Regions from separate parts of the Homo sapiens genome. Here region 1 is linked to region 2. The links come from fine-mapping of genetic effects on gene expression. A gene starts in region 2. The other region holds a variant in brackets. All regions are shown on one strand. Distances are between the middles of the regions.

Region 1 (8,353 bases), 28 kb after region 2:
GTTTCTCAAAGAGCTCAACATATAGTTACCATATTCCATCGCTTGGTAGATAAGGCCCAGAATTCAAAAAATATGTTCATACAAAAACTTGTGCATGGGTGTTAATAGCAGCATTATTCATTAAAGCCCAAAAGTGGAAATAACTCAATTGTCCATCAACTGATGAACAGATAAATAAAATGTGGTATCTATATAGGTGGAATGGAATAGTATTCACACATAAAAAGAATGAAGTACTGATACTTGCTACAGAATGAACATTGAAAACATTACGCTAAGTGAAAGAAGCCAGGCATAAAAGGACCACAAATTATATGATTCAATTTACATCAGTCAATACATCTGTCTCTATGAATTTGCCTATTCTAGATGATTTGTTGAATCATCTAGAATAGACTCATTGAATCATCTAGAATATTCATTGAATATTCATTGAATCATTAAATTCATTGAAGTCATTGAATTCATTGAATCATTTAGAATCATTTAGAATGGCATCCATAGAGACAGAAAGTAGATTAGTGTTTGCCAGGAATCCTGGTGGGGGAGGGAATAGGGAATAACAGCTCATAGGTACACAGTTTCTTTTACGGGTGATGGAAATGTTCTGGAAACAGGTAGTGGTAATGGTTGCACAACTTGAGGAATGTACTAAAAACCACTGCACTGTATGCTTAAAGAGTGCATTTTATGATATACAAATTACATTAGTTTTTTAATGTTTCAAAACTCAGTAACAACTAATAGGCAACAGTTAAAATATGGCAATTCACAAAAGGAGAAATGTAAGTGACTGATGAGCATGGACAAAATTTTTTTATGTCATTTGTAATTAGAGCAAAGAAAATTAATACAAACATAAGCCTACCAAATTTTTGTCTATCAAATGTATATATTTAAAATTATACACAGGCAAGAGTATTTTCTTTATTCAATCTATTGGTAGAAATAAAACTTGAGAACTTTTCTGAAGAGCAGTTTGGCCATATGAATGAAATTCTTTTTAAAATTTTGTATCTGATCTTTTTGTATACCACATTGCAAATACCATACTCTCTTAATTACTATAACTTTATTATAAATCTTAAAGTCAGGTAGCACAACTCTTTGTGCTTTCAACTTTGTTCTTTCTTTTGTAAATTCCTTTTCTAAAACATTTTGGCTATTCCAGGGAATTTACATTTACATATGAATGTTAAAATTACCTTGTACCTTTCTACCAAATGTGGGCTAAAATTTTGATTTGAATGCATTGAATTTATGGGTCAGCTTGGGAAGACTGAATCTCTTAATAATATTGAGCCTGTTTTATGAAAATACCATATCTTGCCATTTATTTATGTCTCATTTAATTTATCTGAACATGTTTTTTAACTTTCAGAGTACAATTTGCATATTTGTTGGCTATTTTTCCCTAAATATTTTTATGCTTTGGTATATGGTATTCTTTAAATTTCAATTTTTGATTATTCATTGCCAGTGTATAAAAATATAATGATGTTTGCACATGGATCATATATCCAGCAACTTTTAAACTTAGTTTATATGTTACAGTAGCTTTTTTGTAGACTTTTTATGATTTTTCTGTGTAGACTGTCATGTTATCTGTAAATAAAAAGTTTTAATTCTTCCTTTCCAATCTGTTTGACTTCTATTTCTTTTTCTTGCCTTAATTCCACTCTCTGGGAACCTCCACTAGGATGTTTAAAGTAAATGGTAAAAACGTAAATGCTTGCCTTTTTTCTGGTTTTAGGAATAAATAATTTAGTCTTTTACCATTAAGTATGATGTTAGCTGTGGGTTGAACATAGATGCCCTTTATCAGATTGAGGAAGTTCCTTTTTATTCCTTTATTAAGAGTTTTTAGTTGGAGTGGATGTTGGATTATGTGAAATACTTTTCCTGTATCTATTGAGATGTTTATATAAATACATATAGATATATATTTATCTATATATAAATATATTTATCTATATAGATATATATCTATAGATATCTATATAGATATATATTTATCTCTATATATATTTATATAAACATCTCAATAGATACAGGAAAATAGATACACTAAATATGTATATATATATAAATCTATTTAGTGATCTATCTGTTTTATCTGTTGAGCAATCGATTGATTGTTGTGTCTGTCTTTCTATCTCTTAATGTAATGAATTATGGCTGGGTGTGGTGGCTCACACCTGTAATCCCAGCACTTTGGGAGGCCGAGGCAGGTAGATCTCCTGAGGTCAGGAGTTCGAGACCAGCCTGGCCAACATGGCGAAACCCCATCTCTACTAAAAATACAAAAATTAGCTGGGCGTGGTGGCATGTGCCTGTAATCCCAGCTACTCGGGAGGCTGAGGCAGGAGAATTGTTTGAACCCAGGAGGCAGAAGTTGCAGTGAGCCGAGATTGCGCCACTGCACCCCAGCCTGGGTGACAAGAGTGAGACTCCATTTCAAAAATATATGTATAATGAATTACATTGATTTTCTAATATAAAGAAAACCTTAAATTTCTGGGATAAACCCCATTTTGTATTAATCCATTTTATATCTTTTTGGATTAGATTTGCTAAAATTTTGTTAAAATTTTTACGTTTATGTTTGTGAAGGGTAATTGATTTGTAATCTACTTTTCTTGAAATGTTTTTGTCTGATTTTGGTATTGAAATAATGCTAGCCTCATAGAATAAATTGGGAAATATTCTCTCCTCTTCAATTTAATCTAAGAGTTTGTGTAAAGTTGATATTATTTCTTCTTTAAATGTTTGGTGAAATTCCGTGAAGTCACCCAGGCCTGGAATTGGTTTTGTTTATTTTTTTGTTCATTTTTGTTGTTATTCATGGGAATTTTTAAACTAAAAATTTGATTTTTAAAAAATAGATATAGGGCATTCAGGCTATTTGTTTCTTGTGTGAGTGGTGGCAATTTTTATCTTTCAAAGAATTTCACCATTTCATTTAACTCACTGAATTTATTAAAACAAAGTTTCATAATATTTTCTTATTGTTTATTTCTATAGAATTGATAGATATTATCTACTTCATTCATTATATTGATAATTCATATCTTTTATATTTTATCAGATTAGCTTGTATAGAGATTTATGAATTATATTGATCT[T/C]TTCAAAGAACCATCTTTTGTTTTTACTTATTTTACTCTGATATTATTATTTTTTTGTTCTGCTTACATTGGGTTTCATATTCTCTTCTTTTTCTAGTTTCTTAATGTGGAATCTGAAGTCATTGATTTGAAACTTTTCTTCTCTAATACGTGTTTAGGGGAATACTTTCTAAACTAAGTATTGCTTCACTGCATCCCAGAGATTTTGATATGCTATGTTTTAATTTTTATTCAGTTTAAAATAATTTTAATAGCCCTTTTGATTTTTTCACTGACCCTTGGGTTATTTAAAATTTTGTGCTTTAGTTTCCAAATAGATAGAAGTATTCCACATATCTTTTTGTTTTTGATTTCTACCTTAATTCTATACTTAGGGAATATATTTTGCCTCACGTAAATCCTTTTACATTTCTTGAGAATTGTCTTATGACCCAGAATATAGTTTATCTTGGTAAGTGGTTGGTATGCATTTGAAAAGAATGTGTACTTGCTCTTGTTGAGTAGAACATTTTATAAATATTAATTAGGTGAGGTTGGTTTACAGTATTCAAGTCTTCTATATATTTTCTGATTTTTCTGCTTACTTGTTCCATCAATTGTTGATAAAGGGATGCTCTAATATTTTACAATTCTATATCATTTTGCTTCAGGTATTTTTGAACCTCTGTTATTAGAAGCATACATTTTTAATGTTGTAATGTTCTCCTGATAATTGGACACTTTATCATTATGAAATTGCTCTCTTTTCCCCTGCTGATATTTTTTATCCTGAAATCTATTTTGTCTGATTTTAATATAGTGTCTCTATCTCCCTTTTGGTTAGTGTTAGCATATTATGTATTTTCCCATCCTTTTACTTGTCATATATTCTTGTCTTTCTTATTTAGATTATCTTAAAAAACATATAGTGGTTCTTTTAAATCCAACCTGACAATCTCTGCCTTTCAATGGAGGTTTATAGATGATTTACCCTTAATTAAAATATTGATATGCTTGGCTCTGAATCCACTATCTTGCTAATTTTTCTATTTGCCTCTTCTGTTCTTCATTCTCTTCCCTCTTCTTTTTCTATCTTCTTTTGAAATAATTTGAATATTTTCCAAAAATTCCATTCTGTCTCCTTTGTCGGTTTATTAGTTATGAGTCTTTGTTTACATTTCTACTGGCTGCTTTAGGTTTTATAGTATATACCTTAACTTTTCACAGTCTATTTTCAGGTGATATTTTACTACAGTAGTCCTGCTCATATCTGCAATTTTATTTTCTTTGGCTTCAGTTACCAGCAGTCAATGACAGTCAGAAAAGAGGTGAGTATAGTAAAACAAAATATTTTGAGAGAGAGAGGCCATACTCATATAACTTTTATGACAGTATATTGTTATAATTGCTCCATTTTATTATTGTTAATTTCTTACTGTGCCTAATTTATAAATTAAATTTTATCATAGGTATGTGTGCAGAGGAAAAAACACAACATATGTAAGATTTGGTACTATCCACAGTTTCAAACATCCACTGGGTGTCTTAGAATGTATCCCTTGAAGATAAGGGGGACTACTATACTTCATGTAAAGTATTAATATAAGAACCTTCCAATGACATATTTCTATTACCCTTAGACATGGTCTTTGTACAAATGTTGTTATGCAGTTGTCATGCATTTTGCTTCTAAATATAAAACCCCACCGTACATTCATATCATTTTTACCTTAAGGTTTCAATTATCTTTGAAAAACATTTACATAATGAGAAAAATGTGCTTACTTATAGTTAGTATAGTCAGTGCTCTTCATTCTTTGCATAAATCCAGTTTACCAACTGTTATCATTTTTCTTCTGCATGAAGAAGTTTCTTAAATATTTATTTCTGTGTAGGCTATTGATGAATTATTTTAGCTTTGTATGTCTAACAAAGTCTTTATTTGCCTTTGTCTATGAGACATATTTTTGCAGAGTAAAGAATTCTAGGTGGACAGTTTTCTTTCAGTACTTTAAAGATCTCATTCCACAGTCTTCTTGCTTGCTTTGTCTCAGACAAGAAATCAGCCTTCATCTTTACCTTTATTCCTCTGTGAATAATGGGTCTTTTTCTTCCTTTCTTTCAGATTTTCTCTTTACCACTGGTTTTAAGCAGTTTCATTATTGAGGGTTTTGGTTTAATTTTCTGCATGTTTCTTGTGCTAGAATATTTGCTGAAATTCTTGGGTCTGTAAGTTTGTAATTTTTATCAAATTTGAAAGTTTTCAGTCATTACTTCTTCAAATTTTTTTCTGCCCCTTCTCTCTTTTGGAGACTCCAATTACGTATGTTTTGGCCACTTAAGTTGTCCCACAGTTTAGTGATGCTCTTTTCCTTTTTAGTTTTCAGTCATTTTTCTTCTCCCTGCTTCATTTTGGACAGTTTTGATTATTGCAACATCTTCAACTTCACTCATCTTTTATCCTGAATTGTTTAACCTGCCATTAATCCCATTCAATTTTTTTTTATCTTAGACAATGTCATTTTCATCTCTAAATGTTTTATATAGGCTGGTTGTAAATGTCTTTTTCATGCCTCTATATGTAACATATTCAATAATTCTTCTAGCTTCTTGAACATTTGAAATATAGATATAATAGCATTTTAATGTTCTTATCTACTGTTTCTATCATCCGTATCTACTATCATTTTTATAATTTCTGGGTCTGCCCATTGACTAAGTTTTCTCTTTATTATTATTATTACTATTATTATTGGTATGCCCTGCTTCTTTGTAAGCCCAGTAGCTTTCTGTTGGATTCCGTATGTTTTAAATTTTACCTTGTTTAATTAAGGCTGGATACTACTTATTCCTACAAATATTACTATACGTTGTTCAGAGATATGGTTAAGGTACTTAGAAACAGTTTGATTCTTTCAGGTCACTCTTTTAAATTTTGTTAGGTGGTCCTAGAGCTGTCTTAAGTTTAGTATTACTTTTCCCTCCACTAGCGAGTAAAGATTCATCTTAAGATTTTAAACCTTCTCCAAGAATTATGAGGCTTTTTAGACTGCCTGTTGGAAACAGGTGCTATTCCAGTGCTGGGTGAAGACTAATCCTTTAGGATCATTTTTTCCTTAGACTTGGATAGATTTCTCACACATATGCACTGGTCAGTCCTTAACTGAATATTCTAGGAGAAAACTCTAAACATCCTAAGTTAACTCTGTGTCACTCTCTCCTTTCCTCTCATTTCTATTATTCTGCCTTGCAACCTCTAGGAACCGTCAATTTTCAGAACTCTTGGCTCTCAACGCCTCAGCTCAAGTTTTTGAACAGGCTCTAGGTAGGTTCCTTCTTCCTGTACTGTATGAAAACTTTCTTTCGGCAATAAATTATATGACTCACCTCATTTGTTTTCTAATAATCAGAAGTTACTGTTCTTTGCCTGATGTCCAATATCTTGAGTGTCTGGTTTTTTCTGTATTTTGTCCATTATCTTTTTAGTTGTTTGAGACAGAAGAGTAAATACTGCTCATCTTACTTCATCTTGATCAGAAACAGAAGTCCTAGGTGGTTTTATTTTCATAGTTTTGCTTTTCTTCATTTTTCTAGTTTCTCTAAAATAACACATGCATTCATATAAAACTAATAAAAATATGCGACTTATTTTAATAAAATACTCAGGATAGTATTAAAGGACTAGATTTGGTAATTGATCATAATAATATGCCTGAATATATAATCACCATATAAATAGTTTTCAATGTCTTTAACAATATTGAAATTATGTCAGATATTTTTTTCCCTAAGGAAGAGAAAATCAGGGGTGCGCAAATTCATAAATTAGCAGATAAAAATGGAAAGGCCTTATCTGAAAAGAAAAATATGTGACTCTTTAAATATATAAAACCCATTTAATAAACCATAGCATGTTACAATGAAATCTGTGAAAATAGAATTAACATATCTCCACATATAAATTACCCCAATCTTACTTATTCTAGATTCCAACATATTTCTCAAAGAATTGTTCATAAAACCTTTTAGTTCCCATTTACAGATGTTTCTCCCGTGACCAAACAGCTAATTCTGTGCCACTTCAAATAACATCTTACACTTTCAACAATCTCAGAAATACATCACACTACTAAAAAACCTGTTTCTACATCTGTAACTTTGGCTTTTATGATCGCCTTGGGTGGCTCATTTTTCCTGGAATTTTCAAAGCCCAGATTATAAAACAATCTTTCTGAAAAAGGTATCAGAAATTAACTATTTTTTGCTTTGGTTGTTTGATGGGGGGAAACAGTCTAGGGTATTTTCAGAATTTAACATTGTCCTTTGCATTATATCCAGCACAAACAGATATGACAGAGGAGTACTGATGCCAGGAATGTGTCCCACGTAGCCTTCCTATTTAAGTAAACTGAAGATTGCCTCCTCAATTAGTTGAAACTTCTGGGTGGTCTTCCAGAAAATAGCTCTTTGAAGAAAGCAGTGCACTAATAATACTGTAAATGTAAAATAACATTAGCTCTTTAGCTTTGAAGCTAAGAAAGAATGAATAGCAATGAGATATTTTGTTTGTTCATATAAAATTTCCTATCTCTGACCCTTCAGAAGGAAAAATTCTATATAAATCCAATGAAAAAATTTTAAGTTTATATATTTGGGTTTAGAATTAGCCATTAATTTGGGGCATGTGTGTGTAAACTATCTGATTTGTTTACTTTTATAGGTGCATGCACACACACACAAACTTCTATAGTAAAATCACTGTATAATAAATTTTAAATAACTGGGGGTATGTAGTAAATAAAAAAATCTCTCCCTTTCTGAGAAAATTGGCCATTATTTAGCCTATTCTGCACATTTGATTTCACTGTCAAGTCTAAAATCACCCCATATGTGCCCTTGATATTATCATTCCACTGCAGCCTGCCCCAGGCAAAATAGTGAAGTTATTGAAGTTGGTTTTGTGGGCACTCTAATTCCCTTCCAGAGACTCCTTTTTCCCTTGTATTCTTCTTGTCTGGGGAGTGAAAAAAAAGTTGTAGTTCAGTTATAAGGCCTTTTATTAATGAAAATGTTCATTTATGTAGCTGCCTATATTTCCAGGGAAACATAGGACAAGCCAGTAATATTAGTAATCTTCATTATGCAAATGTTCATAACTCTGATTTTCATTAATACACGAGCTATGTGTATGTAGCAGTTTGGCAAGGAGAACAGTCATTATTTAGGTGCTCAGCATATTCAACTTTGGT
Region 2 (8,353 bases):
CATTGCATTAAAAGCAAAATAACCTTTTATCAAATGCTTTGTGACCATTTAGAATATTGAATTTGTATTTTAATCATCGAGTTCAACAGGAATATAGCCAGTGGGAAGGACTTAATTACAAATGGTGTCTTTCTCATGGCTATGCCCACAATCCCAGGAGGTGCTTTAATGAAGTTCTGAGCCCTCAGACAGGAAAGGTCAAATGGCTTTCCTCCCCCCAGTACCTCCAAAGTGCACGAAGCTGAACCTTTATCCTAGCAGATGTTCAATCAGATATAATGTCAGCCTGAGGCAAAAATTCCAGGAAACAAGTGCTCAGAGGGAAGCAATTCTCTGGAATTTAGTGGATAACAGCAGCCTCTTTTGGAGTTTGAAGAGGAGATGAATTTAGATAATCCCCTTTTGAATATAAATGTATATTTTGTTACGAGTGTAATATGCCAGCAGGCATACTATTCTGCTTGGGAATTTATTACATATTAAATATTCATGATATTGCAGATCAATATTTTTTTAAAAGTTGAAAATGTTCCTGCTACACTTATGCTACACACATATTCAAATTTGTATAAGGTGAAACCAGCTGAAATTGCTTTTTGGTAGGTCAAAAAAGGTTGAATATTCCATTTTATCTGGTTCAACCTAATTACTCAAATTGTGTTACAATTAGCAAAAGAATGCAAAGTTACATTTTATAACACCATTTTTTAACCTGTTTTTCATTCTTATAAAATACTGTTGTATTACATTAAACATCATTTCAAAATATGCTGTATATATTATATATAGAATATTTTGATATATAATTTTATATAATATAAATACATCAGCATATTTTGAAATAATATTGTTTAACATCAGATTATTTAATAAGAATGAGAAATAGTTCAAAATATATTATTGAAAAATAAAAAAAAGTTTGGTTTTTCTTGAAACTTAAAAAAATGGCTTATTTGCCTTCTCTAAATTAAAAAAGCAAATAAAACAAACCTCAATATGCTATGTGTTAGGGAAAAAAAAAACTTTAGCAAAACTAAATTTAAAAGAGTTTGATTAAGCAAAGAACAATTCCAACAGTCTCCAGAGGCAGAGCAGGCTCAGAAACTCCAACACAGCCACGTGGTAGAAGGTTTATGGGCAGAAAAAGGAAAGTGAGGTACAGAAACCCCCGGACTGGTTATAGCTCCACCTTTGCCTTATTTGAACAGGGTTTGAACAGTTGGCCACATGTGATTGGCCAAAGCTCAGTGTTGCCACAAGAGCAGGCTACAGTCTGTTTACAATTCCATTCAGGTTATAGTTCACAATGTACAGAGAAACCTTTAGGCCAAACTTAAAATATGTAAGAAGACAGCTTTAGGCTAACCTTGATTTAACAAAGGAAAGATTTGAATTTCCACATGACTTACTAATGTTAATAAATACAGGAAATCTTCAAATACAGAATACTTTTTTGATATGGTTTTCTTTAAGAAGATATTTTGGTCTTCAAAAATTATTTTTACAATTTATATCTTTGTAAAATATTTAGTCATGAAAATAGAGTTGTATTTATTCCTGCATTTACTTGATTTGATTTTTTACCATGGCTTATTATAATGCCTGTGCCCTGATGAAAAACTATAAGGGCTAATCAAAGTAATGTATGCCTCCATAAAGCACAATTTGGCTGAACATTAATTAACTGAACATAAAAATCTTTTTAAAAGACTCTTAAAGCTAATTCCAATGTAAATTTAAATAACTAGAAAACCATGTGAACCCCAAAACGAATGGAAAAATGTATATAACGTCAATTAAATTAAGCCTGAATAACACTTCAAATACACACTATTGATAGGTTAAATATTTGTGATTAAAAAGACTGGGGATCTTTAACAAAGACTAGTAAGGAGGCAATGGGGAAGGGAAGGCTGGAAATAGGGGAGGATCAGGAGGGACAGGATGACTCAGAGGTAAGTACCTGTCATTATTTCTGGAAGTCTATCTCAATAGTTGCGGCTATACCTGAGATTGAAAAAAAATCTAGTGTAGCTCACCATGGTGTGACTAAGTTGCAAAATAGATTGTCTTGGGTGGTTATTAAACAATTTCAGAAGAGAATACATTAAATTATCTTAATGTTGTGCCGGAATAAGTGTATAGAGCAGACCACAAAATAGGGGAACAAGTGCCAGCCATGAGCCAGCTGATTTGATTTACGCTCCAGGCAATCGCCAGAAATTAGGTTGTTAAGCTGAGGGAACAAGATCGGTATTTAAACTGTCTTTATATGATATCATAGCCACACACCACCAGCCTTACCACCTTTATGGTGCTTTAATATAAAAATTGGATATTTGTTTATAAGTCTAATTCGTTTATGTTCTTTAAAATACACACCACCCTGAACGTTTACAAGAAATATGAATAGCATAAAAACCCTTTGCATAGTTGAAAAGCCGAGATGTATCTTATTTTTATTGGCAGTTAATGTAGAGGCCTATATAACAGCTGCCTCAATAGCCACTAGATTAGGGACATAAAACTGCAAAACCTGTTCCCTGTGCGGGAGGGGAAACAGAAAAATAAGAGAAGCGCCCTCACCCAGGTTTTGGAATTCCAAGAAAGGTGTTGAACGCCTGATGAAGAATTCATTTTGAATATAACTGTCTTCATTTAGGGAGGGTGTGTGAGTGTTCCGTTTGTCTTTGAAATGAAACCTTTCCAAGAGGCACGTGTTGATTTACCAAAGACAGAATGGCAAGGGGGAGCCCAGAGGCAAGAACTGGTGAAATCTCTCAGAAGACGCGGGAAGAAGCCTTTTTTCCCCTGCAATCTCTCCCGCCTCTCTCCAGAGTCCAGGAGGAGGCAGTCCCCGTGGCTTAGGCTTTATCTTTAAGACAATAGCGCCGCTCGCCGCCACCCGCGCGACTCGGATCGGGCATCCCGGCGGCCGCACCCCGCGCGCTGGCTCATCTGCACACCGGCCACCTGCATTGTCGGCCAGAGCCCCCGTCCCGGCGGCTTCCCCAGCAGCTTGGCTGCCCCTCAGGTCCTCCCATCCCACCTTGCACCTCCAGGACGCCCTGGACCCGCCCATCCTCCTGCCCCACTAGCTCATCGACTTACGACTCCCTCAGTCCCTACGGCCCACGGAACCCTCTCCCCAACCCGCGCCACAGCCCGAGCGGCGGCGGCGGCCTTAAGAAGCCCGCAGTCCCGCCCGCGCCGCCCCGCCGGGGCCGGAGGTTGGAGCCGGGAGCACGGCCGCGAATCCCCGCACGTCCCCAGCGCTCCGCGACACCGGGCCCTGCTCGCTGCAACTCGGGGACGGCCTGCGTCTCGCCTCCACCCTGGCCGCGGGCCCCTCGAGCTTGTTTGCTTGTCCTCAGTCCCAGGGCCAGCCCCGCTCCCTCCTCCCGGCTGCTCCAACAGCCGTTTGCTTCCTGCGGTGTGTTTCTTTTTTCCCCTTCCTAGACTCCATCAAAGGTGGCTCTGTTATTGAAATATGAAGCCATTTCCTCTCCAAAACCCTTGGTTACTCAAGGCGGGAATCAATGGACCTATATACTCTCCCAGAAGTTATAAATAAACGTCTATTTGTTCAGGAGGCGTTTTCCCGCGTGTCCCAGCATCTTCCCCACTGGTTATTTCAGGGGTGTGTGTGTCTGTGTGTGTGTGTGTGTGTGTGTGTGTGTGTGTGTGTGCGCGCGCGCGCCCTGTGCCCATCTGGTTCTAATCCTGGTTATGGATCCACAACCCAACCCCACCCATCCCGTCTCCCCCTCGCATTCCTCGTTCTATAAATAAATCCAGGTTCTTTGAGCTCTGTCATCCAAGGATACAATAGCAGTTGTTTGTTAAGAGAAATTTAAACTCAACACCAATACTGAGTCCAGTAAACCAGAAAATATGCTTCTGGTGATTTGGGTGGAAGGCCATCTCCAGTTTAAGAAGCTTTATGTGCCACTATCATCATTGTCTGTTATCCTTGATCTCCTTTGGTGAGGGGAAGGCGGGAAAGAGAGGACCTCTCCGACCCTTGGATTTTTCTTTTAAGCAGAGGCTAATAAAACAAAGCGCAAACTGACTGTCCTGAGGAGTCTGCTCACACCGCTGCCCCGCAGATCATTCCACAGACCCCTTGTCCCATCCCTTCTGGACAGACCCAGGACTGATGAGGGTTCGGGTTCGGGAGGTGTGGTGTGGTGGGGGCTTGTGTGGCTGTAGCGGCCGGCTTTCCTAAACCCCAGAGCGGGATACTCGGGATCTGAGCAGAGGGGAAAGTCATCTAAGAGGCTGCTGCTTTACAAGGTCTGGGCACAGAGCTGCCCCTCCCTTCCTCCCTGAAGTTTGCATGAAGTGCACATTAGGCTGTAATTAGGGGATTTGGGAGGAGAACTTTCCTGGTGACGCTTTGCTTTTCTTCTGCTCTTGGTGAGAAAGTGCCTCCTTCTTCCCAGGATCAGGACCTCTGCCATCCAGCGCCACAAAGAGACATTCTGCACACACACTCACACACGCACACACACACACACTCTCACACTCGCCCAGAGACAAACTTAAGGTGAGGAGAAAGAGCGCTAGCTTCACTTGATCTCCAGCTTCCAACTTAAGCAGAACTTGAGAGCATCCGAACTCCTGGATTTCAGGACAAGGTAAAACTTGCAAATTGTTTCCCCCTCTTTTGGTTATACCTTTGTGCCTTTAAGATTTCAGAGGGCAATACACATGCAATGTATATATACATTAAACAAATTTTATTCTTTTCTTTTGAGTTTAGTTTTCATTTGAATTTAATATGACACCTCAACTTTTAAAAAAGTTTCATATTGTCGGATAAAATATTTCACTACAATAAACAGGCTCAGTCTAAAAATGGAGAAAGAATTAACTCTAGTATCTTAGCTTCTGCTAGTGCTCCTGTAAATCTGGTAGGGTCATGGTTTCCAAGTGGTGACTTTTCTATCTGTATCTCAACAACCATTTTTATAGCACCTGAGATGAAACAAGGATAGTATAGGCTGAAGGGAAAGGTGAGGAATGGGAATGTCCAGCCAGGCTTATGAATTTTGTTTCAGAGAATATATAGGGTTATGTGAAAAAGAAAGTTACTTTAGGCATAGGTAATACCTGTTAGATTAATAATCTTAGAAATGTTGCCATTTTTGGCCCAGGCTTCCTTCTCCAGCTAATTATGAACTTAAGATCATAGAATGATGATGCATTTCATATATACAATGATGTTGATGGATAATTTGAATGCACTGAAGAGAATTTATAGTCATAGTTAAGATTACTGTTAAAAGTTGCTTAAAGAAATTATTTGTATGTTGAGACTGTTCCCCACCAAAAACAAACCTAAACTTGTTTGGGCTTCGATTAAGTAGTTTTCTTCCATTGAATGTGACTGTTGTGTTCAAAATAAGATGGCTTATTAATTTGAGAATAAGTTGCTTTATTTTCATTTATCACTGGAAAAATACACACAGTGGCCAGTACATTTGGGAATTTTTAGGGTGGAAAGTGTTCCTGTACATGTTCCAGTGTGATGTCATAAAATCAAACATACTGGCTGGCTTCTTGGAAGCTAATAGTTCTTAAGAAATTAAGGCTGTGGATTGATTTCTAAATGAATGTAATATTTATTCATTACAATTGTAGTTTCTGGTAACTATTTCTATGTGATTATTTCTGTGTACTAAATTTGCAGAGATTTTATACACATTTCAGTCATTTCAGTATTTTAATGGAATGGGAATATTGTTCTATCAAAAGTATATCATAGTAGTTATCTTTGGAGAATTTTTAATGTGATATGATTCATAATTCTTATATCAGTTAACAAATTCCATTTACCTACAAAAATGAAAGTTTCTCTTCCATTCAGTAAAATATAATGTATACCAAAGGACTCTTCAGATATTAGCTTTAGTCTTTAGTCACTTTTATACCACCCATTTTAAAAAATTTAATTGTTTCAGCTAAGAAATGAATTTATACTTTTGTTGATGACCTCTTCCACTAAATTGGAAACAGCTTAAAAACAGAACTAGATAAGAAGTAATTTTACTTAAGGCTAATTAAATGAACAAGAGATAACCAACAACCTCAACAGACCACTGCTCTACAGGAGGAATGTACCCAGAGGCCAGTATTCTCGACAGGAATGCCTTATGGGCCTGGGCTTTCTATGAGAAACAAGAAGGTGGGGAAACATTATGTACTTATTTATAAAATGAGCCATTTATTTTCAGCAAGGCCCTGTCTCTCAGAGGAATGACTGACACTGTAATTTAGAAGTACTGAAGAGACTTTCACAGAGAAGAATCAATTCATTATATCCCTAGTGGTTTCACTTCCTTTTCCTTCCTTTGGGAGCAAGTAACACATCCAGGATAAATACATTCAGAGTACACAGAAAGATACTTTATGAGTAAACGGTCTACTAAACAATCCTGCCTTTTAGCATCTTAGGTGTGGAATATTGGTATTTTCTGAACAGTTGAAGAAGTCCTTTGAATCTTAAGATAGCAATGCACTTCATCTTTGTAAAGATGAACAAAAGTTATATTCAGAAAATGACTCCCTTCCTTAGAAAATACTAGTTTTCTTTTTCATTTCTTTTTGCCCCATGCACATTTTATTTTTCAGATTGCATTTTTAAGATCATGATCTCTCACCAGTTAAAATTCTGACGAAATACCAGGCAAATTTGAAAATAATTTTGATAGTGCTTCAAATTAATTTTCTGACATCCTGCAGCCATGAGTAGTAACCATAGTACTTAGTCTATGTCATTTAAGTGTACTTAGCCTGTCATTTAAAGGTAGCAAAATGCTGTTGGAAGAAGTAGGAAAGGATGGAAACCTGAATATACTTAGGATTTTAATCAATAGTGTTTAAGGAGGATTAGAGGAAACAGCTGGTTAAACAATTATTAGGAGTAGAGAGGACGAGGTGGTATAAATTAATAATGCATCTCTTTATTTACACTGAATGGGAGGGTCTGTGGTGGTTAACTGTGTGAAGCATGGTCCCTGTGTGCCACCTAGTGGATAAGTCAAAGAAGGCTTTCTCACCGGCTTCTTAAAATACTCTGACTCCCTCGGTTGACGTTTGTTGAACATTAACTACACGCCAGACATTGGGATAGGTGCTCAGGGTAGAAACTAAAGCAAGTGATGTTTATATAAGTTAAAAATTAAGGTACAACTAAACAGTTTATGAAATCCCTACTGGTTGTATTTAAGATCACTTTACTCTTTGTTGGATACTTTACCATTAACTTTCCGCCTCCACAAGGATATAGCTTAATAACTGCAACTCACTTCTAATATAGGATTTGTTTTAGACAGACAGGTCATGGAATTGTTCAAGGACTGGTGGAAAGAGTTTGACCATCTTAAATCACTGTTCCTGAAATAGAAATAAATTTCTCTAAGGTTTAATGTTACTGAATTTAGTTGGGAAAATAACTACTAGCTTAAAAGGTTACCACACAGCTGCACATTTTGTTTCATATTCTTTGATTTTTTTATTAAATTGGAAAGGATAGTAGTACAAGTTGTTTTTGAGTAATGAGGTCTATTTTATAAAATATTGCTCTCAAACACTAATAATTAGCATGTAAAACAACTTCATCTATACTTGTTGTTCACTTGGAGTTTTGAAGCAGGAACCTGGCTTCCATGAAGTTGATCTAATAGAAAAAAAATTCTAGACAAAAACAATTACATGGAAAACCACCACTTGAAGGAAGCATTAAGATACCATAGAAGATTAGTCCATTTGAGTATTGCACTGAGAGCTTTAAAAACCTTTTCTTTAAAAGATATACGAATTATCACTCCAACTGGCTCTTTGCAAGTTATGTGACAATTGCAACAGTGATCAGGACAATCAGCATTAATCAATACAAGTTGTGAAATTCATATAGGAAGGTAAAATGCCTCAGTAGAAAAAAATGATGAATTTGTTACTTGGGGAGCTTTGTAGGTGTAATCCAAAAATAGAGTTAGGCGTGCTGTTGTGGAATGGAAGTTTCCTCTTTGGAAGAGTTTGGTTTTTGTATGGCAGGGAAACCTACACAGTGAAAGAAGGAGACCCGCTCATTAAGTTGTTTTTCATTAATATCACAAAATTATAACCTGTGCTGATTGGAGGTACTGTTTGGAATTAGCATCATCAATTATATAAAATAAAGCAGATTATCTTAATCTTTATTTCCAGTAGATCATTATCTACCAGGAAAAAAACACATTCTGTTAATAATTTCATTGGATCATCCTTGTGATTTAGAATGAATTGCATACTCATTCTAGTGAGAGAGCTAGTGAGAGACTGCCTAAAAGTCAGAGGTCCTTAAAGT

Alleles and levels. Positions count from the first base shown, and alleles are read on the strand shown. Sizes are in standard deviations (SD) of each study's normalised expression.
As copies of T replace C in region 1, the expression in lung of the gene that starts at base 4,574 in region 2 goes down (small effect, 0.28 SD a copy in GTEx).

The links. PIP is the estimated chance that this variant, and not a neighbour inherited with it, causes the effect. A credible set is the group of variants that fine-mapping cannot tell apart.
Region 1: its variant is the best candidate, but not a certain one, in a credible set for the expression of HAPLN1 in lung (GTEx, PIP 0.86).

What each region holds. Positions count from the first base shown.
Region 1 is chr5:83,689,249-83,697,601 of GRCh38, reverse strand. The region is part of intron 1 of HAPLN1 (hyaluronan and proteoglycan link protein 1); the gene reads left to right. Among named protein-coding and RNA genes, the nearest start is that of HAPLN1, 27 kb to the left of the region's middle. The variant T/C (reference allele first, on the strand shown) is at 3,126.
Region 2 is chr5:83,717,076-83,725,428 of GRCh38, reverse strand. HAPLN1 (hyaluronan and proteoglycan link protein 1) reads left to right here and starts at 4,574. Exons shown (of 5, transcript NM_001884.4): 1 at 4,574-4,640. RefSeq lists a silencer at 2,930-2,989.